Homo sapiens: one gene and its partners. The protein of the gene in region 1 purifies or fractionates together with the protein of each later gene. This does not show direct contact. Each region holds a gene or a part of one and is shown on either strand. Other genes may lie near its edges. The genes, in order: PSKH2, HADHA, GLUD1, FKBP5, MYO5A, SPAG9 and IQCB1.

Region 1 (4,253 bases):
CTTGGTTGGTCTGCAAAGCAATAGAATTTGAAATGCCTGTGATTATCTTCAAAATCACACTGAGAATGCATGTGAATAGAAAAGCAGAGTTGGAAAGGGAAAAGGGGAAAGAATCTATTTAAGATTACTAAATTGCTATCTGTTTTGATAAGGTAATTGGCCAGAAAATTAAATGCTCTGTGGAGAACAAAGCTGTTTTCTGTAATCTGGTACAGCCAAATGTCATTTTTATTCAATACACACAGGAATATAAAGAACAAACAAGAAGGCAAAAAAAAAAGTTACAGGAAAAATAAGCTCAATAAAAGAAGTAAGACTATTTAAAGCATAGTTTAGTATTTGCATTTGAATCTTTGGTATTGAATATGTGATATAAAAACGTGCCTTCTCCCTGGGTACTCCCTGAGTACATTCCATTCTCTGTCATCCTTAGCTAGGAGAGGTTTTATTAAAATGAAGTCCAGGCACAGTGGCTCATACCTGTAATCCCAACACTTTGGGAGGCTGAGGTGGGCAGATCACTTCAGGTCAGGAGTTCAAGACCAGCCTGGCAAACATGGTGAAATCCCGTCTCTACTAAAAAAAATACAAAAATTAGCCAGGCATGGTGGTGTGCACCTGTAATCTCAGCTACTCAGGAGGCTGAGGCAGGAGAATCTCTTGAACCCGGGAGGCAGAGGTTGCAGTCAGCCAAGATCATGCCACTGTACTCCAGCCTGGGTGACAGAGCAAAACTCCATCTCAAAAAAAAAAAAAAAAAGGAGACCTGCGTTCTAATCCTGACTCTACAACGTAAACAACCAATTGGCTAATGTGGTCTTCAAATTTCCTCATCAGTAAAACAAGAAGTTGGGTTAAATACCCAACTTTAATATTCTTTCCAGCTATACAATCGTGATTTTAAGTCTAGCATTTTCTCAACATGTCTTAAATATGAGGTAGAGGGTTAAATTTGATAGGATTCTATTTTATTTTATTTTTTTAATTTTTGAGACAGAGGTCTCGCTCTCTCACCCAAGCTGGAGTGCAGTGGTCTGATCACAGCTCACTGCAACCTCAAATTCCTGGGCTCGAGGGATCCTCCTGCTTCAGTCCCCTCAGTAGCCGGGGCTACAGCTGTGCATCATGATTGGCTAATTTTTAAATTTGTTATAGAGAAGGGGTCTCAGTTTTTTGCTCAGGCTGCTCTCAAACTCCTAGGCTCAAACAGTCTTCCCACCTCGGCCTCCCAAAGTGCTGGGATTACACGATGAGCCCACCGTGCCTGGCCAGATTCTTAAATTTTAATAGACGTTTACACAGATAATTAAAGCTTAAGATCCCTAGCATTTGAAATCTGAGCTGATATCCTGGCCTTTTTTTCTTCAACTTTTATTTTAAGTTCAGGGGTACATGTGCAGGATGTGCAGGTTTGTTACGTAGGTAAACATATGTTCTTGGCCTTTTTGTGGGATAATTGGTTTACAAATTATTGACATACATTCCATGTTAAAATTCTCTTTACTGCCGAGAAATTCCAAGTGTGGGTATGGGGATGGAGGGAGACTGTGAGAAGCTACTGGCTGCAAGGTGGCCCTAACACTACTCCCACCAGACTGCTGAAACCGGCTCTTATAATAGCACAGCTGCATTTACTTCTTCCTTATTAACAGCTACTGTGTACAAGATGAGCCTGGGGCTGAGCTCACAGTCAAGCAACCCAAAGAAACATACTGTTTATTCTCTGTCTTCTGATATGGGATCCTCAGCCTTTGAGAAATTATAAACAGGAGTAAGCTTCTACTTTATTCTCCCCCACTTGATTTGTTTGTTGTTGAAGAATGACAAAAACAAGGGCTAGAGGAAGGAAAGAAATTGGTAGAGGGGGGTCTTAACATTCTTGAAACAGTTTTTGTGAAATGCATTTGAAAGGGCTGGATTTGAATCCCATCCATTCCAACCACAATCTGGGTGCCCTTGATAACTCATTTAACTTCTTTTTAAGTCTGAATTTCCTTATTTGAAAAAGGGGGATATTATTATATTACCCAGCAGGGTTTTAGTAGGGATAAGATTTTTAAAAATTGTTGGCATATAATAACTGTATAATAAATGGTAGTTATTGTATTAAGATTGTCTTTCTACCAACAAATTACCTTTATATCGTTTTCCTCCATTTCAAAACAGGATTTGGGGTACCTTTCAAAAAATAATAAACACAAGTAATAATAAACAAATAAATCTGATGGGAGGAATAGAAGGATAGAAAAGATGATATAAAGCATGGACTTAAATAATTTTGAGAATCATCACTTCTGGGGATAACATGTTTGGTTTTTCTTCCCAACAGATATGACATCAAAGCTCTTATTGGGACAGGCAGTTTCAGCAGGGTTGTCAGGGTAGAGCAGAAGACCACCAAGAAACCTTTTGCAATAAAAGTGATGGAAACCAGAGAGAGGGAAGGTAGAGAAGCGTGCGTGTCTGAGCTGAGCGTCCTGCGGCGGGTTAGCCATCGTTACATTGTCCAGCTCATGGAGATCTTTGAGACTGAGGATCAAGTTTACATGGTAATGGAGCTGGCTACCGGAGGGGAGCTCTTTGATCGACTCATTGCTCAGGGATCCTTTACAGAGCGGGATGCCGTCAGGATCCTCCAGATGGTTGCTGATGGGATTAGGTATTTGCATGCGCTGCAGATAACTCATAGGAATCTAAAGCCTGAAAACCTCTTATACTATCATCCAGGTGAAGAGTCGAAAATTTTAATTACAGATTTTGGTTTGGCATACTCCGGGAAAAAAAGTGGTGACTGGACAATGAAGACACTCTGTGGGACCCCAGAGTACATAGCTCCTGAGGTTTTGCTAAGGAAGCCTTATACCAGTGCAGTGGACATGTGGGCTCTTGGTGTGATCACATATGCTTTACTTAGCGGATTCCTGCCTTTTGATGATGAAAGCCAGACAAGGCTTTACAGGAAGATTCTGAAAGGCAAATATAATTATACAGGAGAGGTAAGAGAGCATTATTTTATTTCTATTGTGTTGGTTTAGAGTGGGGCTTCTCCACCTTGTCACTTTTGACATTTAAGACTGGATGATTTTTGGGGTTGTCCTGTGTGCTGTAGGATGCTTAGCAGCATCACTGCCCTCTACTCTAAATACCAGTAATGTACCTCCCCCAGTTGTGGGGCCCCCAAATGTCTCCAGACATTGTTAAATGTCCCCTGTGGGGCAAAATCGCCCCTGACTGAGAGCCATTTGACTCAAGATAGCAAGGGCCTCCATTACTAGCTGCCTGTGGTTAGCACATGACACTGACAATCAAGTAGATAAATGAGTTCCTCTGCAGTTTTTTTCTCCAATCTGTGCAGAGCCTGAGCTGGCTGACTAGACTAATGTGTTCACAGAAACTCAGCATGACGCTTGGGTGTTTAGCGAGAGATTTTTCTGCCTTAAATCTTGATGATCCAAGCCCTTTTTGTGATGAAGTGTTTTCTCAGCGAAATGTTTAACCTCACAGCTTGTGTAAAATATTTATCCACTGATTAAACTTGAAACTCCCAGTGTTCATGAATGTGTTAACTTTTTTGTTGTTTTGGGTAGGGAAGGAAAGTTGCCAATGCTTGTGTGTGGGAAGCCTGACAAAATAGGAAATTCATTTCATGTACAGCAGATGAGCAAATTTATTTGACTTCTAATTTCTCATGAAGAAAAACATTGATATTTGCTTATACCTACTTAAAATGTAACGTGTATATCTACAGCAACATCTTTAAGCAAAATTAAAGTTAAACACCAAATTTAAATATAATGTTTTCTACACTCTGACAGACCTTTAGTGCCTTATGGTACATGTATATGTTTTTACAAACTCATTCAAATTGATAAATGAGAGCTAAAATTTATACAAGGAAGTAGGAAAGGATGGGAAGAATTCACAGACAATGCAATACCACTGATTATTAAAAGTCTGAAAAATGTCCAGCCTCACTAATGACCAAAGAAATGCAAATGAACACAAAAATGTCTTTTTATTGTCTTTCAAATTCATAAAGATAAAACAACAAACAACTAAATTCTACATATGGCTGTGAAGGGTACTGAGAGATTAGCCCTCTCACTAAGTACTAGTAGAGGACAAATTGTCACAGGTTTCTTGGAAAGTAGTTTGAAAATATGAATCTAGAACTGTCTTAGTCCATTTTCACACTACTGTAAAGAAATATTCAAGACTGGGTAATTTATATTTTAAAAAAGGTTTAGCTGTCT
Region 2 (4,253 bases), on another chromosome or scaffold:
AGCCTGGCCCGACATGGTGAAACCCTGTCTTTACTAAAAATACAAAAAATTAGCTGGGCATGGTGGGGCACACCTGTCATTCCAGCTACTTGGGAGGCTGAGGCACAAGAATTGCTTGAATCCGGAGGCAGAGGTTGCAGTGAGCCGAGATCATGCCACTGTACTCCAGCCTGAACAACAAAAGTGACTCTGTCCCAAAAATAAAATAAAATAAAATTCTCATATTGAAACTAGAGAAGACTGTGAGAAACCTGATAGTTTTGACAAAGTCTTTAAAAAGAATTTTAAGCTTAACAAAAATAGAACTCAGCTAGGGCTGCTTATATGGCATACTAGAAGAAAGGCTTCTAGCAACATTCAAATACCAGCTATAGTTTAAGAAAAAAAAAAGAAGAAAGAAAGAAACTCAGCAAATATTTTTGATACACATATATGCATATTCATTCTTTCAATAAATCCTTATGACATTCCTATGAAGGAAAGCACATTATTATTATTAGAAAATTAACACCATAAACCTTGTTTTCTTTTGTGCTCAATTGAGATCAACTTCCCTGCAAAGAGTATTTCTGTTGAGCCTTGTTTTCACTGAGGAATCTACAGTGCCAGAAGCTATAAGGTTCAGTGGGCCCTTGAGTTGACATTAAGATTGCTCTGCAGCATCCAGGTCTGACTGTCCTTCCCTTCTCCTTGGAATTCAAAGCCTGCTGAGCCTCTTTTGGTTCCATACAACACAGCAGTGAGAACATCCAAATCAGACAATGAGGGAAAAGGTCTGCCTCTTATATTTGTAATGAAATATTAATATGACTCATGGTTTTGAAAAACTGTTAAGATGGTATTATGTGGAAAAGGAACCAATTAAACCATAAGCTCCAGAAATGCAAGACATGCATCTTAGTTATCTTTATCCTTCCTCAGAGACTAACAAAGGACCTTGATCAATAATTCTGTGGAATTAGGCCAGGCATGGTGGTTCATGCCTGTAGTCCTAGCACTTTGGGAGGCTGAGGCGGGAGGATTACCTGAGGTCGGGAGTTCAAGACCAGCCTGGCCAACATGGCGAAACTCCATCTCTACTAAAAAATATAAAAAATTAGCTGGGTGCAGTGGTGCACGCCTGTAATTCCAGCTACTGGGGAGGCTGAGGCAGGAGAATCGCTTGAACCTGGGAGGAGAAGGTTGCAGTGAGCTGAGATCACACCACTGCACTCTAGCCTGGGCTACAGAGCAAGATTTTGTCTCAAAAAAAAAAAAAAAAAAAAATCTGTGGAATTGAAAAAATAAGTACCAGGAATAAAGTCTGTCACTGATCCTGTACACTCATATTTTATTTGGTTTTTTAATTCTACAATGAATGCCCATATTATGCATTTTATACAAGAAAACAGATCTAAAGAGGGCATATAGCTTCACAAAGGGGATGTTAGACTCACCATTTTGGGCAGCCTTTGTGTGCCTCCTGCTCCTGGTAAGGCCCCCAGCAAAACTTCAGGGGTACCTAATACTGTTTTTCTGTCTTTTGTTGCTATTCTGTATTGGCATGAAATGGCAACCTTTGAACAAATGAAAGAAAATTAGAATGTTAGAAAATGTAACTTAGTAGCAACTTGAGATGGATAAGGGTCTAAAGATTATTTATAAAGCAGGAATGTGCTCACAGAATAAACTGAAATTCCTTAGGCTGGCATTTAATAATTTCTAGAATTTACCTTTTTAGCCTTTTTTTCATACTTTTCCTCTAATTTACTAACCTCTTTTTGGGCCGTAGATCTCCTAAAAAATCTACTGAAAGCTAGAGAAGCTCTCAAGAGAAAAATGCACACACAATTTTATATGGACCCCAGGTTAAAAAGCCCCGGACTCTCCAATCAAGCACGTCTACTTACAGTGTCCTAGTTGGCTTTGCTTTTGCCTTTGCTCACACCATACCATATGCGGAATTGTTTTTCCCTCCATATTCTGGTTAATCAAATTCTGCTTATAGTTTAGGACCAGGCACAGGTTTTCTTAATTAATATAGTCATGTGTCACATAATGAGGGGGATATGTTCTGAGAAATGTACCATTAGGAAATTTTGTTGTTGTGTGAACATCGCAGAGTGTACTTACACAAACCCAGATGGCAGAGCCTGCTACACATCTAGGCTATATGGGATAGCCTATTGCTCCTAGTCCAGCAGTCCCCAACCTTTTTGACGCCAGGGACAGGTTTTGTGAAAGGCAATTTTTCCAAGAACTGGGGGTGGGGTGGGAGGGAGTGGTTTCAGGATGAAACTGTTCCACTTCAAATCATCAGGCAATAGAGGCCAATGGAGTGCGCAACCTGGATCCCTCTCATGTGCAGTTCACAACAGGGTTCCAGCTCTTATGAGAATCTAATGCCACTGTTGATATGACAGGAGGCGGAACTCAGGTGGTAATGTTCACTCGCCCACTGCTCACCTCCTGCTGTGGGGCCCAGTTCCTAACAGGCTATGGCCTGGGAACTGGGGACCCCTGTCCTAAGGGGCTACAAACCTGGACTGCATGTGACTATTGAATACTGTAGGCAACTGTGGCACAGTGATAAGCATTTCTGTATCTAAACACAGAAAAGGTATAGAAAAATGTAGTGTTACAGTCTTATAGAACCACTGCTGTATGTGCAATTGGTCATTGAAACGTTATGTGGTAAATGACTGCATATGTGAAAGTGTCTGGCACAGAGTTCAGCATGTGAAAAGTGCTCAATGAATGTTTCCTTTTCCCCTTCTTTTCTTTCCTACATGTTCGGGTCTAGTAAGCATCTCTTCTCTCAAATCTTCTATTATTTACCGTCTTTACTACTGACAAAGCACTTATATTATGCTTTATGTGTCTCAACCAGACTTAAGTAGCTTAAGAGCCTAGATCACACTTCTGAATCTTTGCCCTGCAAACTTGAACAAGATTTTTACAGCTGAAAAGGACATTAGAGATGCAGTTCAAATGAAAACATCACACCTTCATTTACTTGCTTTGTGCCACTTGCTCTGTGTCATGTGGATTAAGGATTAACACCTATCCAGAAGTTTGATAACTAAAAACAAAGCTATTTAGGCACAGTGGCTCACACCTGTAATCCCAGCACTTTGGGAGGCCGAGGCGGGAGGATCACCTGAGGTCAGGAGTTTGAGACCAGCCTGGCCAACATGGTGAAACCCCATCTCTACTAAAAATACAAAAATTAGCTGGGCATGGTGATGCACACCTGTAATCCCAGCTACTGGGGAGGCTGAAGCAGGAGAATTGTTTGAAGCCAGGAGGCAGAGGTTGCAGTGAGCCAAGATCGTGCCATTGCTCTCCAGCCTGGGAGACAAGAGCAAAATTCCGTCTCAAAGCAAAAAACAAAAAACAAAGCGGATTCTCCTCCAGAAACTTTTTCCAGGCAAAGCAGTAGCCTAAGGGTTTACAGCTGATGAATGCCACCAATGAGTTGGACAGTGTCTCAATAACTTTAGAATATCTATACCTCAAGTCCTCCTCCCAGGCAGGATCCATTGATGGCAGCCACAATAGGCTTTGTGGACTTTTCAAGTTTCTCAACTATTCTCTGTGCTTCTTGTGATAGCTGTGTTACTTCTTGAAGGGTCTTGCAAGCGGCTAACATGCTGCATTATCCATAAAAGTAGAGAACAGAGAAAAAGATAAAACTATAATTTATTTGGTTCAATACTTATTCACTATACACTTATCCTATCATGCATCAATATTTGATGACAAATCTTCAAATAGAAGGTTAAGAATGATTTTGCTTCAAATAGCACAATAGCAGCAACATCATTTCTCCATAAAGAGTGTTAAACTTCTGGATCCATGAGACCATCCCGGCTAACACGGTGAAACCCCGTCTCTACTAAAAATACAAAAAATTAGCTGGGCATAGTGGCGGGCGCCTGTAGTCCCAGCTACTTGGGAGGCTGAGGCAGGAGAACAGTGTGAAACCGGGAGGTGGAGCTTGCAGTGAGCCGAGATCGCGCCACTGCACTCCAGCCTGGGCGACAGAGTGAGACTCTGTCTCAAAAAAAAAAAAAAAAATTCTGGATCCAGAAAACATAAATGTGTTGCATAATTTATTTTTACTTCTGTAATAAATCATTAAATTACAAAGCTTGGTACAAGGGAAAATCATCTTTGGTAAATTACTTCACTATCAGATTAAACATTTCACTATCAGGTAGTTAACAGCAATAAAAATGACGCAAAAGAAAAGCTTCCAGGTTGTTTAGAGA
Region 3 (5,022 bases), on another chromosome or scaffold:
TTTGGCCCCCAAAGTGCTGGGATTACAGGCGTGAGCCACCGTGCCAGCCTCGTTAGTTTGAAAAGCACCAAAAGCTATCCATAGGAATGTGAACTTTAGCATTTCCTATCAAGTATGTATAAATACATAACTGAACCCTCATACAGCATAAAGCTTATAAATCATATACTGAGGCCAGGCGCGGTGGCTCACGTCTGTAATCCCAGCATTCTGGGAGGCCTAGGCGGGCGGATCACTTGAGGTCAGGCGTTGGAGACCAGCCTGGCCAGCACAGCGAAACCCCGTCTCTACTAAAAATGCAAAAATTAGCCGGGCGTGGTGGCGCGGGCCTGTAATCCCAGCTACCCCGAGGCTGAGGCAGGAGAATCGCTAGAACGAACCCAGGGAGGTGGAAGCTGCAGTGAGCCGAGATGGTGCCACTACACTCCCGCCTGGGCGACAGAGCAAGATTCCATCTCAAATAAATAAATAAAATAAAAAATAAATCATATACTGAACCATTTAACAAATACATATATTCCTGAGAAAGAATTTCCTGGGGGCATTATCGCATTTCTAGTTTCCTTATTTTAGACTATTTCAGAGGGAGATAGGGTCTCCCTCTGTTGCCCAGGCTGGGGTGCAGTGGAGCTATCGTAGCTCACTGCAGCCTCGAACTCCTGGGCTCAAGCCATCCTCCAGCCTCGACCTCCCAAAGTGCTAGGACTAAAGGCGTGAGCCACCGCGCCGGGCCGGAGCCTCTGTCTGCAAAGGTGAAGCAGTCAGTACTGTGGGGCGACACAACCACGACGTGCGTAACTATGCGATCTCCACACTGCGGAGCAGTTGAACGGGACAATAAAAGCTCGCGTGGTGAGAGCTTGTGGGCGAGTGACTCCCTTCCAGCTCACGCCAGCCACGCATAATCCAACTCCGGGTGCCACGCCGCTCTCTGCAGCCCTGGCTGGTGACGCCGAGCCCTCAGCCCGGCCTTACGCGGCGGCGGCTCTGCCTCGCTTTCCTGCCCACGTGTCAGCCCCTGCACGCCCGGCCCCGGCCTGAGGCCGCCAGAGGACAGGCCAGGGTGGGCCGCCCGTTCCGAGGGCGCGCGGGCGGAAAGGAGGGGCGCCCGTGACTCACATGACCCGGTCCCCGACCAGACCGCCAAGCCTCACCCACGCGGCGCTCGGGGGGACTCGGCCTCTGAGCGCCCTACAGAGGCCAGCCCCCGACCCCGACCTCCCTGGGCTACCCCCAACCCCCCTGAGGGACCCCCGCGGCGCACATACCTGAGAGCCCCGCCGGAGGCGGGTGCGGCCTCCGGGCAAATCCGGCCGCCCGTGGGCCCGCCCCGACCCGCCCCGACCCGCCCCGACCTTCCCCTCCCTGCCCCTCCCGTCCGTTCCCCTCCACTCTCCTCCCCGCCCTTCCTCTCCCCTCCCCTCCCTTCCCCACTGGCGCGCGAGCGTGCGCGCCGAGCCCGCCCGCGCCTGCGCGCCCCCGACGCCCCGCCGGCGCGCGCTGCCGCCAGCGAGGCCCGGGGAGGCCGCGGCGGAGGCGGAGGCCCGGCGCCCTGGGCGGCGCCCTGTCCCCGAAGTCCGTCCTCCCCGTTAGGTGGCGAGCGCCCGAGGGGAGGGGACAGCCGGGCAAGCAGGAAGCTGCGGCTTAAAAGGGCAACCCGCGCGGGACCCTTCCTCCCTAGTCGCGGGGAGTCTGAGAAAGCGCGCCTGTTTCGCGACCATCACGCACCTCCCCTCCGCTTGTGGCCATGTACCGCTACCTGGGCGAAGCGCTGTTGCTGTCCCGGGCCGGGCCCGCTGCCCTGGGCTCGGCGTCCGCCGACTCGGCCGCGTTGCTGGGCTGGGCCCGGGGACAGCCCGCCGCCGCCCCGCAGCCGGGGCTGGCATTGGCCGCCCGGCGCCACTACAGCGAGGCGGTGGCCGACCGCGAGGACGACCCCAACTTCTTCAAGATGGTGGAGGGCTTCTTCGATCGCGGCGCCAGCATCGTGGAGGACAAGCTGGTGGAGGACCTGAGGACCCGGGAGAGCGAGGAGCAGAAGCGGAACCGGGTGCGCGGCATCCTGCGGATCATCAAGCCCTGCAACCATGTGCTGAGTCTCTCCTTCCCCATCCGGCGCGACGACGGCTCCTGGGAGGTCATCGAAGGCTACCGGGCCCAGCACAGCCAGCACCGCACGCCCTGCAAGGGAGGTGAGCGTCGGCCGGGCCCCGTCCCGCCCTCCCTGCCTCCCCTGCGGCCCTCCCCTCCGGCCTCCTGCCGGTGCGGGGCCGCTGCTCAGCCCAGCCCAGCCCAGCTGGAGCGGGCCGGGTCCCCGCCCGGGTCACCCCGCCTCGGATGTGGCCGGCTCTGTGGATGGTGATTTTTCCGCCTTAAAATCATCATGCGATTGGCCTGCCCCCTCCCCCGCGCCGTCACCCCGGGCCTCTGTATATGCTGATCTTGCATGCAGAGTAGACGCTGCACCGGTCTCCTTTTGGTCCCGGTGTCTGTGTCACACACGGCGGGTCCTGCCGAAATGCACTTCTAGGAAAGGGAATGACCTGCCCGTGTGATAATGCCTCGTCAGTGTTCTTGGGCTTTTGTGAGTCTCCCCTAAATGCAAGCTGTCAAATTATTTTCTGGTATTTGTTCACTCCTGTTCCAATAGTGACAGATGATATCCGAACATAGAAAATGACTTGGCTTCTAAGTTTGAAATCTAGACAGTTTTATTAACCAAAGGAATTTACTAATCACGCGTTAATCGTTTCAATTAAGTAATTTTCCCATTCTGACAAGTTCTGTTTTATACCAAAAAAAAGGAAAAACACAAAAAAATCACAAGCAATGTAATATCTCTGACAAATAAACACCTGGCGTCCTGACAGTAAATTTACAGGTTGTAGGCTGCGGATGGCCAGCCAGCCAATGGAATGAAATAGCTCTGGGGGTGTGTACTGGTCCTGGCTAGCCCTGAATTTGAGCTTCAGGAAAAATATAGTACGTGAAGAAAGGGGTCAGATAATGTTTGGTAGTCACTGGGTTATCCTGTGGTTTAAATCATTTAATGTCTGTAGATTTGGCCTCTGTAGTCAGATTGCTTTCTTCGAGCAAATAAGAGCTTTTTTCCCCCCAATACATTGCATCATACCTCTTTAGTAACATAAAATGGAAAGGACAAACCACTTTTGTCTACTGTAAAAAAGAAAAATTATATGGAATAAAGAGCCCAGGGAGGCGAGGAGTCTTGTTGGAGGTGGATTGGCTGAGAAGCACAGAGGATGTTGGGCTAGACCCATGTCTCAGTAAACCTGGTTCTGTGGTCTTTCAGTTATGCCCGCTGACTTATGAGGATTTTTAGAAATCCTCTCTGTACCGGAAAAAACTTGAGCGGTGCTGGTGTTCCCAGCAGGGGGGACAAAGGTTGTTTTTAAAGATTTACTAAATTTGCATTGACCCCGCCCACTTCTAGGACTTAACTTTGGAGCTTAATTATCCCCTAGCTCTGGTTGCCTCAGCCAAAACCAATGTTTGAACCACTTTGACCTCTGATTTCCTTTCTAGCTTCAAAATTGTATAAAATGTACACACCGTCAGTCTCCTACATTTGCCTGCCTTCTTCCTACCACTCCCTTATTATCCAAACCAGGAAAACAAGTTCAGACTCCAAAGAAAGGCAAATAAGGATGTTGGAGGAAGTTCAGGCAATGTTTAGCAAATATTGAGTTGCATCGTTTTCTTAAAACGGACATCAAGTTTATTTTTTACTATCTTGCTGGCAGCATTTGCCAGTCCTTTAAAAGGTGTACAGATAAATCAGTGTATGTGGTTTTCTGCAGGATGATTTGGTCTCTGAAATCCTTTTTCTTCGATTCTTCAGATGCCCAGCTCTCTCCTGTTTTTATAAGTCGCAGCTCCGCAAACTCACTGAAGCAACTCGTTTACCATAGTTTGTGAGTCCTCTTTCTCTTGTTGCCACAGCAGTTTTAATGCCAAAATATTGAACCTAGCAACAAATTGGGTCAGCCATACCAAAGCACTGTTACTGTAGCACTTGCTTGTACTAGAGTGTAAGATACAATTTTCTGTTCCGTTTATCCCATTTACAAAAAAACATGCTATTAACCCCCAGCATATAAACAGGGAGAAACTGAATTGTTACTAGTAAACTGTTGCAAGCATTGATAGAACATCAAAGAAAATTGGCCTCTACAAAGTGACAAATTTATTATCTTCAGGAATTTGAAAGGCTTTCTGGATTGGGGAAGATTACATAGCTATGAAAGCCCTTAAATATTTTAGTTTGCTTAATAAACAGTATACTAAACAGATGATCAGCAAAATTTGGGTACTATAGCCTTCCATGCTTTGTGTTCAAGACATCCCCAGATCTATCTACCCATTTATCACCCTTGTTTGCAGAGAATGTGCATTGTAAGAGAGACAGGTCTTCTTTCTTAAAGCTTTTTTAACGTCTAAGAAATTGTTAACCTTTGTAGTCCCACTCTAGTCTTAGAAACACAGAATATATTAGGTGATTGAGATTTTTTTAAATGCTTTGGATAATCCCTATGAAATTCTGTCTTTCCCTCTTAAACATATTTTAACACGTTCTTCTTACCTCTCCCCACTAACCTGTCTTCTCTCCCATTGGTTCTTTGCCAAAAAAAAAAACCTCATCTGCCTCTCTCCACCCTTTTACCAACCTTCAGCTTTCTGTATCTCATTTTCCCTCAAGAACAACCTTATCCCTGAGTTTTCTAAATTAAAATTCTTGAGGTTGAAGCAAAGCAACAATCTAGCAATAATCTCTAAGGGAAACAGATGGTTATAAGACTTGGTGGCTGATGTGTACTTTTTCCAAGTAAATATTTAATAATACACACTGTTTTTGTGCTTTTCTTTTCCCAGTTACTACATGTACCTGAGGCCGTTAGATTTGTCTGTGTTAAGGATTTGAAAGGGTAAGCTAAAGGATCTGAAGGGAAGTTTAAGTGAGGCCTTAAAAATATTTCCAGCAAAGGGGCATAGTGTGAGAAT
Region 4 (4,253 bases), on another chromosome or scaffold:
AAAAGATTGGAAGAGACATATATATACACACAGACACATACATACATTTTAAAGAGATTGACGTATGTTTTTAACCTTTTTTTAAAAAAGAAATGGGATATATATATATATACTTTTTTTTCTTTTTTTTTTTTTTTAAAAGAGATTGTTTCTTGCTCTGTCACCGAGGCTGAAGTGTGGTGGCTAACTGCAGCCTCGACACAAACTCCTGGGCTCAAGCAATCCTCTTGTCTCAGCCTCCCAAAGTGCTGGGATCCCAGGCCCAAGCCACCATGCCTGGCTTAAAAATGTAGTACATTTGAATTGTATCCTTTTGAAATTGTTCGTTTTTTGGAAAGAAGAATAAGAGATGAAGAAAAATCAGACTGGAAGAGGGTTGTTTTTTCCCTTTTGTAGTTGCAAATCCTAAGTGGGCAGTGGTAAATTTCTAGAATCATTTGTAGCATTCTGTTTTAAACTTGGCAATTTAAAGATGTTATAAATGAGGAGTCCCCAGAAAATGGTCATTTCATTATCAAAAGCAGGGTTGCAAATTTCAGATTGATCTTTTCAAAAGTTAGATTTGTACTTGTTCTCAGTGTTCCTATCTCTGGAAACTAAAGAACCTCCTCCATTGTTAGCTGAAAATTGCACAGTGAATTTGAAAGTCAAGATGTCCCAGTCATGGACATAATGCTGCGATAGGTTACTTTTTGGAATGGAGAAAACATCTTAGAGATTGAGTCTGCATCAGAATATATTCTGAATGAGCATGGAATGTTCTTTACCCATGTTAGATATTAATTAATTAAGTTTTTCCATGTTTAACTTTTTTAAAAAAGCAAGACAATAAAAACAGTCTTGTAATCTGAACACATATTTTGGGTTTTGTTGCTAGCATAAAAATTATTACCTAGTGGATGGTAACACTGTTTTGAAATTCTAGCTTGGAGGAGATGTTTGTTACAAGAGAAAAGGTGTTTCATTGAAACCTAACAGGGTAATTTACATGGAGAGATACTTGTTTCTCTTTTGAGTTATTGTTAGGTTAAGACATAAACTTAGAAAAATTGAGATGCTCATCTTTCCCATCTTAGATTTACTTTCACTATGAACTTTATAAATTCTTTTTTTTGAGACAGTCTCACTCTATCGCCCAGACTGGAGTGCAGTGGCGTGATCAGAATTATTCAAGCTTATGTATGTGTGTGTATTACACATATATTACACATATGTATAAATATCAAATATCTTTTTTACATTATATATAATGGTATATATGGTTGCTATATGTTTTATGTGTGTATAGCAGTATCTATCTATACTGCCTTATTTCCCAGGCATATTTATATGCGAAACTTTTTTTCTGTGAAATCTTATTGTACCAAGAGGAATAAGTATATATGCCCACAAAAAGACTGGGTCATAGCAGCTTTTTTCACAGTAGGAATAAACTACTGATTCACATAGCAACATAGATGAATCTCAGAAATACTGTTCATAGCAAGAGAAGCCAGGCACAGATGAGTATGTATAAGTGTTTATGATGCCATTTATGAAAAATACAAGAACAGGCAAAACTAAGGTATGGTGATAGAAATCAGGACAGTGGTTGCCTCTGGGTAGGGGTTGTGGTTGACTGGAAAGGAGCACAAGGAAACTTTCTGGCATGATGGAAATATTCTGTAGCTTGACTTGGGTGATGGTAATTCAGTTATATACTTTTTGGGTAACTTCGTTTTCATGTAATTTTTAACTTACAGAAAAGTTGCAAGACTAGTACAAAGAGCTTCCGTATACCTTTATCCAGTTTTGCCAATTGTTATATACATTTACTCAAACATATTGATTCAAACTTAAGATTTTATAGTATGTAAATTTTACTTTAATAAAGGAAAGAAAGCTAAAAAAAGTGTTGAAAATGAGGATGATCTTGTTATCTAAAAAACATGAAATACCTCAGTTAGGAATTAACCAGTGGTTTAATAATGATGAGAAAAAGAATCGTTGGCTGTCTTTTGTCTTCATGTATATGTATTTATACTGCTTTTCACTAAAGACTCATGACATGTTTCTGTTAGAAGAAACAGGATCCTCAAAACGATTCAAGGTAGAACTGCCTACAAGGCAAACCTGCTTTATTTTGTTATCCTACACATGTCACCTAGGGAATGTGACTGAAACCTAGCAATAGCTTTCTGGGAATTGGAAGTTGTGACTGTTTCTGTTAAAAGAGTTGTATACCTACAATGTGCTAGCTGTTGCAAAGACATGAACAGTTTTTACTATCCTAGAACTTAGCCAAAGAAGAGGAGGCATACAAATCTGGTTGTTGTTTTTGGGTGGTGCTATTTTTCATAGGCAGGAAAGACATTGGTGTTTGTAAACTAAACTATTCTTGATCATTGGTAAGTGGTAAATCTGTCACTGTCTACTAGATTTAATGTTTCCACAGCCTCAATAGTGTGATTTGATTTAGATTAAATCAATTTAAATCATAGCTTAAACAATAATGGCTAAAAAAATTCAACTTTCCAATTCTACTACTTATTTTATGTAATTTTTAGTATGTGTTCATTACAATTTAGTATTAGGCATAATTAATGGATATTGGTTCTTTTTGTTTTTTCTTTTGAAACAGGGTCTAATTCTGTTGCCCAGTCTGGAGTGCAGTAGTGCGATCATAGCTCACTGCAGCCTGGAACTCCTGGGCTCAAATGATTCTCCTGCCTCAGTTTCCTGAGTGGCTGGGACTATAGGCGTGCACCACCATGTCTGGCTAATTAAAGAAAAATTGTAGAGACAGAGTCTTGCTGTGTTGCTCAGGCTGGTCTTGAACTCCTGGCCTCAAGTGATCCTCCCACCTTGGCCTCCCAAAGTGTTAGGACTGCAGGTATAAGCCACTGTGCCTGGCCTGGTTCATTTTTTTAAATCTTTTTTTTTTTTCCATCTACATCAGAAAGTTGTTTTATTTGGTCATATAGTCGAGTAGAAGATGTTTGAAGTAACTGGAGGGCTAACCAGATGCTTCAACAAATTAATCATTGATATTCAACATAAACATTTATTTTGCCTTTACTCATGAAAATAATAAAGTTATATGACCTATATATTTTTATTTATAAGTTTTTAAATTTAATATATTTTTATTTCAATAGCTTTGGAGTACAAGTGGTTTTTGGTTACATGGATGAATTATATCATGGTGAATTCTGAGATTTTAGTGCATCTGTTACCTGAGTAATACACATTTTACCCAATATGTAGTTTTTTATTCCTTTCCCCTGCCCTCTTCTGAGTCTCTAGAATCCATTATATCACTCTGTATGCCTTTGTGTACTCATAGTTTATCTCCCACTTATAGGTGAGAACATGCAGTATTTGGTTTTCCATTCCTGAGTTAGTTCACTTAGAATAATGTATCCAGCTTTATCAAAGTTGTTGTAAAAGACATTATTTCATTCCTTTTTTATGGCTGAGTAGTATTCCGTTGTGTGTGTATGCCATGTTTTCTTTACTCATTTAACTTATATATTTTTCAACAAAAACATAATTCTTTGAAGAATGACAGATGTCTGATATCAATCAACATGGATAAAAGGACTAACTTCTTCCATGTAATAAACATGTTCATATTTCTCTGAAATGACAGAATAGGCCTTTTCCCCTTTTATGGTCCATTTCACTATGGTGTTTAATTGATCAGTCGAGAATGAAGAAAACATTCTTTGAAAAGTATCTGCCAGAATTTTGTTTAGAATGGTCAGCCTTAACTGAAGATAGGATTTAAAAAGTATACCTGTAAGTAGACCTTTTTAGACTTTTTATTATGAAAGTTGCATACATACACAGAATCGTAGAGAATTGTCTAATGAAGTTCCATATACCTCCTCTCCAGATTCTTTAATGAACCTCCATGTACCCATTCCCCAGATTCATTAATTACTGACATTTTGGTTATTTGTATTTCATATATTTTTTTGAGACAGGGTCCTACTTGTTGCTCAGGTTGAAATGCAGTGGTGAAATCACAGCATGCTGCAGCCTTGACCTCCTAAGTACAAACAGTCCTCCCACCTCAGCCTCCACAGTAGCTGGGATTACAGGTATGCATCACCATGACCAGCTAATTTTTAAGTTTTTTTGTAGAGCCACAGTCTCACTATGTTGCTCAAGCTGGTCTTAAAATCCTGGGCTCAAGCTGTCTTCTTGCCTTGGCCTCCCAGAGTGTTAGGATTACAGGCATGAGCCACTGTGTCCAGCCATGTGCTTTT
Region 5 (4,253 bases), on another chromosome or scaffold:
AGAAATTTTGGTCAAGGATGAAAAAAATTAGTATAAACAGTAAGAGTGGGTTAAAATGCAATAGTAACTCTAAGGGGCTTAACATTTTCATTTCTTAAACAAGAAATACACATTCCGACTTTATGAAAATGTAATCTAGGTTGTGGACCAAAATTCCTTATTATTAAGATATACATTTCCCAATTTTACAGACAGCATCTCCAGAAAAATTCTGCTCCCAACCCAACCATGCTGCTTATCAAACTAGAAGATTTTTTTCTAAGCTTAAGCATAGAGAGACCAACCCCGTGTAAAAGTTGTTTAAGTACTGGCAGAAAAGTGTTTTAAGGTGAGATCATATCTTTAAAGGAATATCTAGTCATCTTACTGTAATGCAGACCAGTATGGTAAGCTAAAAAACTAAGGTTGAACTAGTCTAGTCTAACTAGTCTAAAACTAGTCTAACACAAAAGTGTTTGTTTGAAACACATAAACATGCTCACAAACACAGAAAATGATTTATGCAAACTCATAAAAAATGACTTCCTTTGTGATGTCAGATCAGGGAGTGGTAATAAAGCAAAAACAAAAATGAAGTTCCCTCCTCAATCTAAGTTATGAAAAAAAGATTCACCCTTTAGTAACTTATTTTATTCCATTATAGGTGTGGGATGTATATATACTTCGTTATAACAAATCATAACAGGGCATAAGGGGTGGGTAGATAAAATTAAATAGTAGGGGGATAAAGCAGATGAACAGGTGGAAGGAAGAGAACAGAAGACAGACTACCACTAGACATGAACAAGGAATGACGGACAGGCAAAAAGAAATTGTGCACAATTCTTACTGTTGTGCAATAAGAAATCGTGCAACTTATCTATGTATGAAAATAGGGGAAGAGAATAACGTATGCAAGCAAGGATGTGAAGAAAATAGGGGAAATAAAATGCTGAGGAAATACGGTAGAAAGAAATCAGTAAGAAAGGTGACATAGGGTTCATAGCCCCCAAATTAAGACTGAATAATGGCCGGGCATGGTAGCTCCCGCCTATAATCTCAGCACTTTTGGGATAATTAAGTGGGAGATTGCTTGAAGCCAAAAGTTTGAGACTAGTCTGAGAAACAAAGTGAGACTCTGTCTCTACAAAAATTAAAAAATTAGCCAGGCATGGTGGCATGCGCTTACAGTCCCGGTTACTCAGGAGGCTGAGCTGGGAGGGCTGCTTGAGCCCAGGAGTTCGAGGCTGCAGTGAGCTATGCTTGCGCTACTGCACTCTAGTGTGGGCAACAGAACGAGACCTTGTCTAAAAAAAATAATAATAATAATAATAATAATAATACATGAAAAATCAAAATTGAAGACTGAATAAATTTTCAAAATTTCAATTTCTAACATGCTATTAGTAACATTTGCTTGCACAGACGCTCCATGGCTTTTTTTTTTGAGACAGAGTCTTGCTTTGTCGCCCAGGCTGGAGTGCACCGGCACGATCTCAACTCACTGGAACCTCTGCTTCCCGGGTTCAAGCGATTCTCCTGCCTCGGCCTCCTGAGTAGCTGGGATTACAGGCACACGCCACCACGCCCGGCTAATTTTTGTATTTTTAGTAGAGACAGGGTTTCACCGTGTTAGCCAAGCTGGTCTCAAGCTCCTGACCTCATGATCCGCCCGCCTTGGCCTCCCAAAGTGCTGAGGATTACAGGCATGAGCCACCGCACCTGGCCTGGCTTCTATTTTTCAATCCAAAATGATTCTCTAGGGGAAAGATACCTAATGTCCCCGGTCAAGCAAAATTTCCCATTCTTCTTGCTCAAAGATCAGAAAAGGAGGGGTAGAATTCCATGACTATCATTTTCAGTGACCTATTCATAGCATACATGGACTGAGGGTAGTTGTTTATTTTGACTACCTAGCACTTTTCCTTCCAATGGCGAACAGCTCACAGCCATCCCATGAGGTTGGAGTAGGACTATCAATCACAGTGCCCTGTCCTCCCCCTGGTCTCTGGGGTGAGCACAGACTTGACCACTCATGGTGCTCCTCACCTACTGCCTAGAGGCCCAATGAAAGGAGAAGGCACATGACCAGAATTCCTCTATCAGGCTCTCTTCCTCCAGGCCCAGTGCTGTAAGATCATGTGATCTGCAGGTGCCACTGACCATCTTTTCACCCCTAAAAAAAGCTGCCCTCAGGATGAAACCAATGTCAGACAGCATGTGAGAGTCAGTGAAGAGAGCCCCAATGACCATGTCTGAGCCTTGATTCCAGCCATGCCTAGATTTTTAAGTCACATGAGCAAATAAACTCCTCTTTGGCTTTGAGTTTGGGTTTCTGTTTCTTCCAACTAAAACAGCTGTGGCTGGTAAACTGACTAACACTGTTAAAGAGAGGTTTGGTAAGTCAATGTGCCAAACCTCTCATCCATAAATTACCCAGACCCTCTCTATTTACATCCTGTACCTCAGCTAATACCATAACTTGAAGTGATGAGTTTCAGAAATGTAAAATGTAAATGTTTAAAGTAGAAATTCATTTAAAATGGCATATATTGATTTGTTTCAAGATCTAAAACATATCCCTACTAAACTGAGATTTGATGTTACAAACTTCCACTATTCTGGATGTCAAAGAGTCTACTATAGGGCTGGGCACAGTGGTTCACGCCAGTAATCTCAGCACTTTGGGAGGCCGAGGCAGGCGTATCACATGGTCAGGAGTTCGAGACCCGCCTGGCCAGTACTGTGAAACCCCATCGCTACTAAAAATACAAAAATTAGCCAGGGGTGGTGGCACATGCCTGTAGTCCCAGCTACTCGGGAGGCTGAGGCAGAAGAATCGATTGAACACAGGAGGCAGAGGTTGCAGTGAGCTGAGATCACGCCACTGCACTCCAGCCTGGGTGACAGAGCGAGACTCTGTCTCAAAAAAAAAAAAAAAAAACCTCTACTGTATTCCCAGCTCACCTTCATCTTTCTAAACTAGAGAGTTCGACACCTTTAATCTGTCTAGCCTCTTCACTGCCCTGATCATTTTACTTCTCCTATTCTGAAATTTCTCTAGTTTCATGTACATTTGTCAAGAAGTAGAAACCCCAACCACACATGCAGGATTCCTGGCCAGGACTATATGTTTTTGTATATGTGACAAAAGATGGACAAAACCTATCTTTTTTGTGCATCCAGTCTCCCTCTAGCCCAGCATCTTGCCCACATTTTTGGCCACAGTAGTACATTAGGCCACAGGAGGTAGATACATGGTCCTCATGAACACTTAGTGCATTATGTACAATGCACTTCTCCCTTGATTTCAATCAAGTTTAGAACCATTATTTTGAAATCAAAAAATAATTACATCATCCCTAAGTTCTACAATTGGCAAAAAGCCTTTGCTGTACAAGGAGATATTTAACGCTAATGCCTGCTAGTTAAAAAGAATTCCAAGTGAGGAGGGCTTAGAAGAGAAATGGAGAATGCCTGAGGCATGAAGAGCCAGGGATAAGTTTCTGCAAAGTTTAGGTTGTATCAGCACAAACTCAGACTGATGTTACAACCAAGACAGATGGGGAAGAGGAACCGTTAAAGGGCAAAATTAACCAAAGGGCATTTCAGAAGGCATCAAAGGCAGACATCATTAATAAAGGCAAAGTGGTCAGTGTGTGAAGGAAAGATTAAACAAAAATCATCTAAACTCCTTTTATATCCACTTCCGCCTCCCACTGAAAATGAAACTCCACAGCCATGATCTCCAATGCCAGGCCTTTGTAATAAGTATCTCTATTGGTTGGGCTAAGGTGGAACCATAGCATTCATTTCGGAAAAACCAAAAAGAAAAAACTTCCTTCTGCCCTAATGAGCAAGCATAACTCCAGTAAACTCCCTGAAGATGTTGGGGAAGATAAGAGACAAAGCACAAGGGAACTTTTGGGGTGATGGAAATGTTCTGCATCTTGTTTGTGGCGGTGGTTACATGACAGAATATATGTGTCAAAACTCATCAAACTGTACACTTAAAATGAGGGACTTTTCAAGTATATTATACCTCAATAAAGTTGATGAAAGATTGGGAGTGGGGTGGTGCTGGGGAGAAAAGGACAAACTCCCTAGGAAGATAAATAGAATAAGTCTAGGAAGACCACTGTAGGATGGAGGACATGCCTTCAGGTGAGGTGGAAGAAGTGGAATTGCTCACATAATATTTTGTCTATGGCCAGACCTTACTCCACAGATCAGAAGTTTAGACTTCCAACAGTACCTCATACTTCACTGGGAAT
Region 6 (4,253 bases), on another chromosome or scaffold:
CCAAAGTGCTGGGATTACAGGCGTGAGCCACCACACTTGGCCCACACTTGATATTTTATTTTTTAATTTTATTTATTTTTGAGACTGAGTTTCACGCTCTGTTGCCCAGGCTGGGGTGCAGAGGCACGATCTTGGCTTACTGCAACCTCTGCCTTCTGGATTCAAGCAGTTCTTCTGTCTCAGCCTTCTGAGTAGCTGGGATTATAGGCATGAGCCACCATGCCCAGCTACTTTTTGTATTTTTAGTAGAGATGGGGTTTCACCATGTTAGCCAGGCTGGTCTTGAACTCCTGACCTTGTTATCTGCCTACCTTGGCCTGCCAAAGTGTTGGGATTACAGGCATGAGCCACCATGCCTGGCCCATTTTTTAAAAAATTTATTTTTGAGACAGAGTCTTGTGCTGTCGCCCAGGCTGGAGTGCAGTGGTGCGATCTCAGATCACTGTAACTCCCACCTTCCAGGTTCAAGCAATTCTCCTGCCTCAGCCTCCCTAGTAGTTTGGGATTACAGGCACGCGCCAGCACGCCCGGCTAATTTTTGTAGTTTTAATAGAGAAGGGGTTTCACCATGTTGTCCAGGCTGGTCTCAAACTCTTGACCTCAGGTGATCCCCCTGCCTCGGCCTCCCAAAGTGCTGGGATTACAAGCGTGAGCCACCGCACCTGGCCTAAAAAACACATATTTTAATATTTTTATAGATCTTTTGATTGATTGATTGAGACGAGATCTCACTCTGTTGCCCAGGCCAGAGTGCAGTGGTGTAATCCCGGCTGACTGCAACCTCTGCCTCCTGGGTTCAAGCGATCCTCCCATCTCAACTTCCGGAATAGCTGGGACTACAGGATCATGCCGCCATGCCTGGCTAATTTTTGTATTTTTTGTAGAAATGGGTTTCCCATGTTGCCCAGGCTGATCTTGAATATTTGGGCTCAGACATTCCTCGCACCTCAGCCTCCCAAAGTGCTGTGATTACAGGTGTGAGCCACTGCACCCAACCTATTTTCTTTTGTTGTTGTTGTTTTTTTTTTTTTTGAGATGGGGTCTTGCTTTGCCACCCATGCTGGAGTGCAGTAGCGCGATCTTGGCTCACTGCAACCTCTGCCTCCCGGGTTCAAGCAGTTCTCCTGCCTCATCCTCCTGAGTAGCTGGGACTACAGGTGCTCACAACCACACCTCGCTAACTTTTGTATTTTTAATAGAGATGGGGTTTTACCATGTTGTCCAGGCTGGTATTGAACTCCTAACCTCAGGTGATCCACCTGCCTTGGCCTCCCAAAGTGCTGGGATTACAGGTGTGAGACACTGTGCCCGGCCAACCTATTTGCTTTTTCTTTTCTTTCTTTTTTTTTTTTTTTTTTGATATGGCATTTCACACTTGTTGCCCAGGCTGGAGCGCAATGGTGCGATCTCAGCTCACTGCAACCTCCGCCTCCCAGATACAAAGGATTCTCCTGCCTCAGCCTCCTGAGTAGCTGGGATTACAGGCATGTGCCACCATGGCCAGCTAATTTTGTATTTGTAGTAAAGATGGGGTTTCTCCATGTTGGTCAGGCTGGTCTCGAACTCCCAACCTCAGGTGATCCGCCGGCCTCGGCCTCCCAAAGTGCTGGGATTATGGGTGTGAGCCACCACGCCCGGCAGCGGCCAACATTTTTTCATATTTTTAAAAATACCATTTTTTTTTTCTGAACTGTTTGTTTTTGTGATTTTTTTTTCCTTTGGTTGGGTTTTTTTTTTTTTCTTTTTTTTAGAGATGAGGTTCAGGCTGGAGTGCAGTTGTGCAATCATGGCCCACAGCAGCCTTGACCTCCAGGGCTCAAGTAGATCCCACTTCCTCAGCCTCTGAGCAGCTGTGACTACAGGCATGCGCCACCATGCCTGGCTAATTTTTAATTTTTTTTGTAGAAACAGGGTCTCGTTATGTTATGCAAGCTGAACTCACTATGTTGCCCAGTCTGGTCTGGAACTCCTGGGCTCAAGTGGATCCTCCTGCCTTGTGGATCCTGCCAAAGTTTTTTTTTTTTTTTTTTTTTTTTTTTTGTTGAGACAGAGTCTGGCTCTGTCGCCAGTCTGGAGTGCAGTGGAGTGTCTTGGCTTGCTGCAACCTCCACCACCTGGGTTCAAGCGATTCTCTTGCTTCAGCCTCCTGAGTAGCTGGGACTACAGGCGCGCGCCATCACACCCAGCTAATTTTTGTATTTTTAGTGGAGATGGGGTTTCACCATGTTGGCCAGGATGGTCTTGATCTCGACCTCAAGTCATCTGCCTGCCCCAGCCTCCCAAAGTGCTAGGATTACAGGTGTGAGCCACTGCGCCTGGCCTTTTTTTTTTTTTTTTTTTTGTAGAGATGGGGTCACACTGTGTTGCCCAGGCTTGTCTTGAACTCCTGGCCTCAAGACATTTTCTTACCTCAGCCTCCCAAAGTGTTGGGATTGTAGGTGTGAGCCACCACACCTGGCCATGGTTAACGATTCGAATAATGTTCACACTGCCCCTAGCCAGAGTAGATAGAGATATGCCCCTGCACCTAGTCATTCAGACACTTTCTGAAATGAACAATCTATGTTTGTTTTCTGGCGGGAGTGGGATGGGAAGGGGTATGGTTGTTGCTTTATGAAATAATAATTTGTTAGTTAATTATTACTTAAGCTCCTAAGACATTTTTTTTTAAAGACAAAGACTAGCTCTGGATTAAGACATCTTTTTTTAAATTTGAGATTTCTGAATGTGAATATCTAAATGAGATACCATTATGTGTCCCTGCTGTAGTGACACTCATATTTTTATTTAGTTAAAAATCACAAAAGAACGCTACGCATGGTGGCTCATGCCTGTAATTTCAGCACTTTGGGAGGCCGAGGTGGTGGATTGCCTGAGGTCAGGAGTTCAAGACCAGCCCTGACCAACATGGTGAAACCCCGTCTCTACTAAAAATACAAAAATTAACTGGGCATGGTGGCGGACGCCTGTAATCCAAGCTACTCCGGAGGCAGAGGAAGGAAAATCACTTGTACCTGGGAGGCGGAGGTTGTAGTGAGCCAATATCTTGCCATTGAACTCCAGCCTGAGCTACAGAGTGAGACTGTGTCTTCAAAAGAAAAAACAAAACAAAAAAAAATCACAAAAGAGGACACCAAACTGGGTATAGTACCAAACTGGTTCAGAGGGTAGATTAGTAGATTGACTATTCACTGGATTGCTGAAGTGTGTGCCATAGGTCACACATCCAGTTCTGTGCTTGAGAGAGTACAGGATTCCTGCTTCTTGAAATCTTTACCTTACCTTTAACTACATGCTGCTTACTTATGTTGTACTGAACTTTGCTTCTCAGGAGAACTGATGTTAGAACCTACCCAAGTTATTTTGCTCTGCTCTGCACTCAATGAATACAGCTGTTATCTAAATAAGTTATTAGGTTGTGGTCAGAAATATCTGCATAGACCAGTTTAATAATGTATGTAATGTTATATATATTTAAAAAGCTGTTATTTGGAAATGGGTATATATAAGTTCTGTTTTTTACTTTGAAATCTTGACCAGTGATATTTGATTATTGCTTTGAACATAGCACTGTGTTTTCTTTTCTTTTTTTTTTTGAGACGGAGTCTTGCTCTGTCACCCTGGCTGGAGTGCAGTGGCGGGATCTCGGCTCACTGCAACCTCCGCCTCCTGGATTCAAGCGATTCTCCTGCCTCAGCCTCCCGTGTAGCTGGGACTACAGGCGCCCGCCACCACACCCGGCTAATTTTTTGTATTTTTAGTAGAGATGGGGTTTCACTGCGTTAGCCAGGATGGTCTCAATCTGACCTCGTGATCTGCCCGCCTCGGCCTCCCAAAGTGGTGGGATTACAGGCATGAGCCACCCACCCGGCCATACTGTGTTTTATTTTCTTAAGAATTACAGCATTCAGTAGTTTGGCATAATAGGCACACCCAAAAATGTGTGAGGTGAACCATGGGAATTTATATATTAATGTAATAGAGAAGTACCAAGTTGAGGGTATAGAATTTTATTTTATGTTATTTTTTTCGAGACAAGGTCTGGCCCAGGTTGGAGTGCAGTGGTGCGATCTTGGCTCACTGCAACTGTTGCCTCTTGGGCTCAAGCCATCCTTCCGTCTCAGCCTCCCAAGTAGATGGGACTACAGGTGTACACCACCACGCCCAGCTAATTTTTGATATTTTGTAAAGACGGGTTTCACCATGTTGCCCAGGCTGGTCTCGAATTTGTGAGCTCAAGTGATCTGCCTGCC
Region 7 (4,253 bases), on another chromosome or scaffold:
AACTGTCAAATTAGAATTACATGCTCAGCAGAAATATATTCAAAAGCAAAGATGAAATACTTCTTCAGAAATCACCAGCAGACCAACACTACAAAAAATATTCAAGGAAGTCCTTCCATCAGAAGGGAAATTCATCTACACAAAGAAATAGAGTATCGGAAATGGTGATTACATAAACATATAAGATAGTTTTTCTTATATTATTTTAATATATCTATAATATGTTTGCCTACACAAAAATAATGCTGTATTTGAGGAACATATGTATAAGTAGAATGTATTCCAAAAGGGCATTAAGGCTGGGAGGAGATAAATGGAAGTATACTGATGTAAGACTCTTATACTATACATGAAGTGGTATAATATCACTGTGATAAGTGATAAGACTGTGAGAAATTGAAATGTATACTTTGAACCTCAAAGCAGTGAAGAAAATAGCAAAACAAAGAATTTACAGCTGATAAGCCAACAAAGGCAATAAAAATTAATCATTAAAAAATACGCAATCCAGAAGAAGGAAGTAAAAAAAAAAGAAGAACAAAGGAGAAACAAAACCAAGTGGTAGATTTAAACCTATCTATCTTAGATGTAAATGTGGAAAAACTAAAGTTAAAAGACAGATTGACAGATTGGATTTAAAAAGTACAAGCCTACTATATGCTGTCTACCAGAAATGCACCTTAGATATAAAGACACAAGTAGGTTAAAAGTAATGGGGTGGAACAAGATATACCGTGCTTATACCACAGAAAGTTGAAGTACCTGTATTAGTATCAGATAAAGTAAGTTACAGAACAAAGAATATTTCTAGTGCTAAAGAAGGTTATTTCATAATCATAAAAAAAGTCAGTTCATCAAAAGGATGTGTTTATTGACCTAATAGAGTTTTAAAATACACAAGCAAAAATTGACAAGAACTACAAGGAGAAATCCTCAATTAAAGCAAAAGATGTTAATATACCTCTTTTGATATTTAATAGAATAAGTAGACAAAAAAATTAGTATGACCACAGATTTGAACAATAATATCAACCAATCTGACCTGATTGACATTTTACAAATATTCTACCAAACAGTAGCAGAATACATGTTCTTTTCAAATGCAGATGGAACATTTACAAAGAAGGGTGCATATTCCGAGCCATAAATAAAGTCTCAAGAAACACAAAAGGGGCCGGGCACGGTGGCTCACACCTGTAATCTCAGCACTTTGCTGAGGTGAGCAGATCACTTAAGTCCAGGAGATCCAGACCAGCCTGGGCAGCATGGCAAAACCCCATCTCTACAAAAAGTACAAAAAATTAGCTGGGCATGGTGGCAGGTGCCTCTAGTCCCAGCTACTTGGGATGCTGAGGTGGGAGAATCTCTTGAGCCCAGGAAGCAGAGGTTACGGTGAGTTGAGATCACATCACTACACTCCAGCCTAGGCAACAGAGCAAGACCCTGTCTCAAAAAAAAGAAAAAAGCAACGTAAAAGGATTTCAGTTATACAAAGTATGTTCTCTGGCCTCGATGGAATTAAGTTGGAAATTGATGCCAAGAAGATCTCTGAAAAGTCCCCAAATATGTGGGAAATAATAACATTCATCTAAATAACTCACAAGACAAAGGAGAAATCAAAAGTGAAATTAGAAATTATTTTTAAATGAATGGAAATAAAAACAACATGAGAATTTCTGGGGAAATTCTTAATTAAAGCAGAATGATACTTAGGGGAAATTTATATCACTAATGCCTATATATTAGAAAAGAAGAAAAATCTCAAATCATTGACCTCGGCTTTCCCCTTTAAGAAACTAGGAAAAGAAGGGGGAATTAAACTCTAAGCAGAAGAAAGAAAATGATAAAGGTTGAGCAGAAATCAATAAAATTCTAAGCAAACGTGATAGAGAAATAAACCATAAACTGGATCTTTGGGAAGATTGAAGTTTTTTGAGAAAACAAACCATAAACTGGCTCTTTGAGAAGAAACCTGTAGCAAGATTAATATGGAAAGGAAAAGACATAATACAAATGACCAATCTCAGGAATTAGAGAGGTAACATCGTAACAGAGTCTACAAATACTAAAAATATCACAAGGGAATAATATAAACAACTTTATGCTTATAAATTTAACAACTTAGATCAAATGGACAAATTTATTGAAAGACGCAAACTACCAAAATTTACTCAAGGAGCAATAGAGAACCCAAATATACTCTAGATAGCTATAAAAAAAAATTGAATTTGTAGCTAAAAACCTTCCCACAAAGAGAACTCCAGGTCTGGATGGCTTTTTCACTGTGAATTCTATTAAGCACTTCAGGAAGAAATAATAATCTTAAGCAAACTTTTCTAGAAAATCGAAAAGGAGGAAACACTTACAACTCATTCTATAAGGTCAGCATTATCCTGATACCAAAACCAAACAAAGACATTATAAGAAAAGAAAACTACTCATCAGTATATTCATAAACATAGATAGAAATGTTCTGAACAAAATTTTATAAGTCAAATTCAACAATATATTAAAAAGTTAATACGTCATGAATAATTCTGGTTTATCCCGGCATTCAGGGCTGGTTTAATATTCTGAAGTCAGTCATTGTAACTTATGTTAACAAGCTAAAAATGGAAAAAACATACCATCATATCAGTAGATACAGAAAAAGCTTTTGACAAAATCCATTATCTAGCCCTGATTTTAATTAAAAAAAAAAAAAAAAAAAAAGGCCTTGCAGCAAAGTAGTAATACAAGGGAACTTTCTCAGAAAGCAGATCGGTGGTTTCCTGGGCATAGAATGATAGGGAAGGCAACAAGGGAGGAACTACAATGAAATACAAGGAAGCTTTTAGGGGTGATAGATATATTCATTTTCTTGTTTTATGTTGGTGAAACATGTCAAACTGATGAAATTATATGCTTTACATATATGCAGTTTGTTGTATATCAATTATATTTTTAAAAAGCTGTTTAAAACAAAAATTATGATGACTTGGTGAATGTTTTGATATGGGGTAGATAAAATAAATGGTGCAGTCAGATATGATACCAAGTTTTCTGTATTGGGTGATTAGACTGTGGTATGTGGAATATATAAGAAGTTGGTTTTGTGAGACAGATGATTAATTCAATGTTGGTTATGTTGAGTATAGGTAGTTCAACATGCAGTAAAAGTAAGTATCTATATAAAGACTTATACACAAATGTTCATTGAGCTTTATTTGTGAAAAACAAGGACTAGCTAAAACTCAAATGTCCATCAGGTGAATAGGTAAACTAACTTCTGGAAGAGATTGGGACTAGAGTTACAGATTTACAAATCAGCTTATACATGGTAGAGAAAAACATGACAGAAAGTGAGATTAGTAGGAAGTGTGAATACAATGAGAAAATAAATGGCTTGAAAATGGAGTCTTGGGGAATAACCTTTTAGGGTTATACTGGGGAAGTGGAGCCCACAAAGACAAATGAAAAAGAATGGTCAGAAAAGTATGGGTGGAAGGTAGAGGGGAGACCAGAACTTTGTATCACAGAAGCTGAGTAAGTAGAAAGTATCAGATACAAACAAGTCTAGGAAAAGAATCACTTATGGTATATATGTGACTTGACATTTGGGAAGTTATACTGATGAACTTATCAAGGATAGTATAGTGAAATAGTAAAAAATGAAAACTAGATGCAGTGGTTTGAGAAATGAGATGTGAGATAGTGGCAACAGAAATTGGATTAGAAGAGAAGCAGAGAGATAAGATGGTAGTGGTATAGAGAGGATGTCTTTAAGATTAGGAGGTTGAAGAGCATCTAAAAGCATTTAAACTACTGTATTACATTATAGCACAAACTCTTGGTGGGATATGGAGTAAAGATGTGATAAGATTGGGATAGGGATATCTGTAGAAGGCTTTCTGAGATGAGCATATTTTTTAATCTGAGTTTTGAATAGTGTGATGACATTGACTGATGGGACAGGGTGAGCATCCTAGGCATAGGGAATAGCATGTAAGAGACACAGTGGCACAGAAGTAGATGTCACAAAGATTCTCACATATTTTGATTGGATAACTTTATAAAGTCTTTCAACTCAGAGATTTTTACATTTAAGGTATGTTGCTGATCTCTTTTCTCTTAACAAAATTATTTTAGTAACTACTAAAGTACAATTTTCAAAAAGCTCAAACATGAGTCTTATACAAATATAAAATTTGACTGCTCAAAATTTTATGCAACTCATTAATGAGGGAACAAATAAGATATTTATACAGGGTCAA

Evidence for each region.
Region 2: the proteins of PSKH2 (region 1) and HADHA purify together in Homo sapiens (affinity purification with mass spectrometry; one large-scale study listed by BioGRID and IntAct). This does not show direct contact.
Region 3: the proteins of PSKH2 (region 1) and GLUD1 purify together in Homo sapiens (affinity purification with mass spectrometry; one large-scale study listed by BioGRID and IntAct). This does not show direct contact.
Region 4: the proteins of PSKH2 (region 1) and FKBP5 purify together in Homo sapiens (affinity purification with mass spectrometry; 4 studies listed by BioGRID and IntAct, with this or other methods). This does not show direct contact.
Region 5: the proteins of PSKH2 (region 1) and MYO5A purify together in Homo sapiens (affinity purification with mass spectrometry; one large-scale study listed by BioGRID and IntAct). This does not show direct contact.
Region 6: the proteins of PSKH2 (region 1) and SPAG9 purify together in Homo sapiens (affinity purification with mass spectrometry; one large-scale study listed by BioGRID and IntAct). This does not show direct contact.
Region 7: the proteins of PSKH2 (region 1) and IQCB1 purify together in Homo sapiens (affinity purification with mass spectrometry; one large-scale study listed by BioGRID and IntAct). This does not show direct contact.

Annotation. Positions count from the first base shown.
Region 1 is NC_000008.11:86,062,708-86,066,960, reverse strand, and holds part of PSKH2 (serine/threonine-protein kinase H2), read left to right. Parts: intron 1-2,329; coding exon 2,330-2,996; intron 2,997-4,253.
Region 2 is NC_000002.12:26,230,724-26,234,976, forward strand, and holds part of HADHA (trifunctional enzyme subunit alpha, mitochondrial precursor), read right to left. Parts: intron 3,633-4,253; coding exon 3,494-3,632; intron 1,557-3,493; coding exon 1,437-1,556; intron 1-1,436. UniProt on the Homo sapiens protein: Mitochondrial trifunctional enzyme catalyzes the last three of the four reactions of the mitochondrial beta-oxidation pathway.
Region 3 is NC_000010.11:87,091,495-87,096,516, reverse strand, and holds the start of GLUD1 (glutamate dehydrogenase 1, mitochondrial isoform a precursor), read left to right. Parts: upstream 1-1,673; 5' UTR 1,674-1,747; coding exon 1,748-2,192; intron 2,193-2,429; exon of another isoform or gene 2,430-2,538; coding exon of another isoform or gene 2,539-2,584; intron 2,585-3,862; exon of another isoform or gene 3,863-3,935; intron 3,936-4,893; exon of another isoform or gene 4,894-5,022. UniProt on the Homo sapiens protein: Mitochondrial glutamate dehydrogenase that catalyzes the conversion of L-glutamate into alpha-ketoglutarate. Plays a key role in glutamine anaplerosis by producing alpha-ketoglutarate, an important intermediate in the tricarboxylic acid cycle.
Region 4 is NC_000006.12:35,678,790-35,683,042, reverse strand, and holds part of FKBP5 (peptidyl-prolyl cis-trans isomerase FKBP5), read left to right. Parts: intron 1-4,253. UniProt on the Homo sapiens protein: Immunophilin protein with PPIase and co-chaperone activities. Component of unligated steroid receptors heterocomplexes through interaction with heat-shock protein 90 (HSP90).
Region 5 is NC_000015.10:52,518,323-52,522,575, forward strand, and holds part of MYO5A (unconventional myosin-Va), read right to left. Parts: intron 1-4,253. UniProt on the Homo sapiens protein: Processive actin-based motor that can move in large steps approximating the 36-nm pseudo-repeat of the actin filament. Can hydrolyze ATP in the presence of actin, which is essential for its function as a motor protein. Involved in melanosome transport.
Region 6 is NC_000017.11:51,110,459-51,114,711, reverse strand, and holds part of SPAG9 (C-Jun-amino-terminal kinase-interacting protein 4), read left to right. Parts: intron 1-4,253. UniProt on the Homo sapiens protein: The JNK-interacting protein (JIP) group of scaffold proteins selectively mediates JNK signaling by aggregating specific components of the MAPK cascade to form a functional JNK signaling module.
Region 7 is NC_000003.12:121,800,270-121,804,522, reverse strand, and holds part of IQCB1 (IQ calmodulin-binding motif-containing protein 1), read left to right. Parts: intron 1-4,253. UniProt on the Homo sapiens protein: Involved in ciliogenesis. The function in an early step in cilia formation depends on its association with CEP290/NPHP6.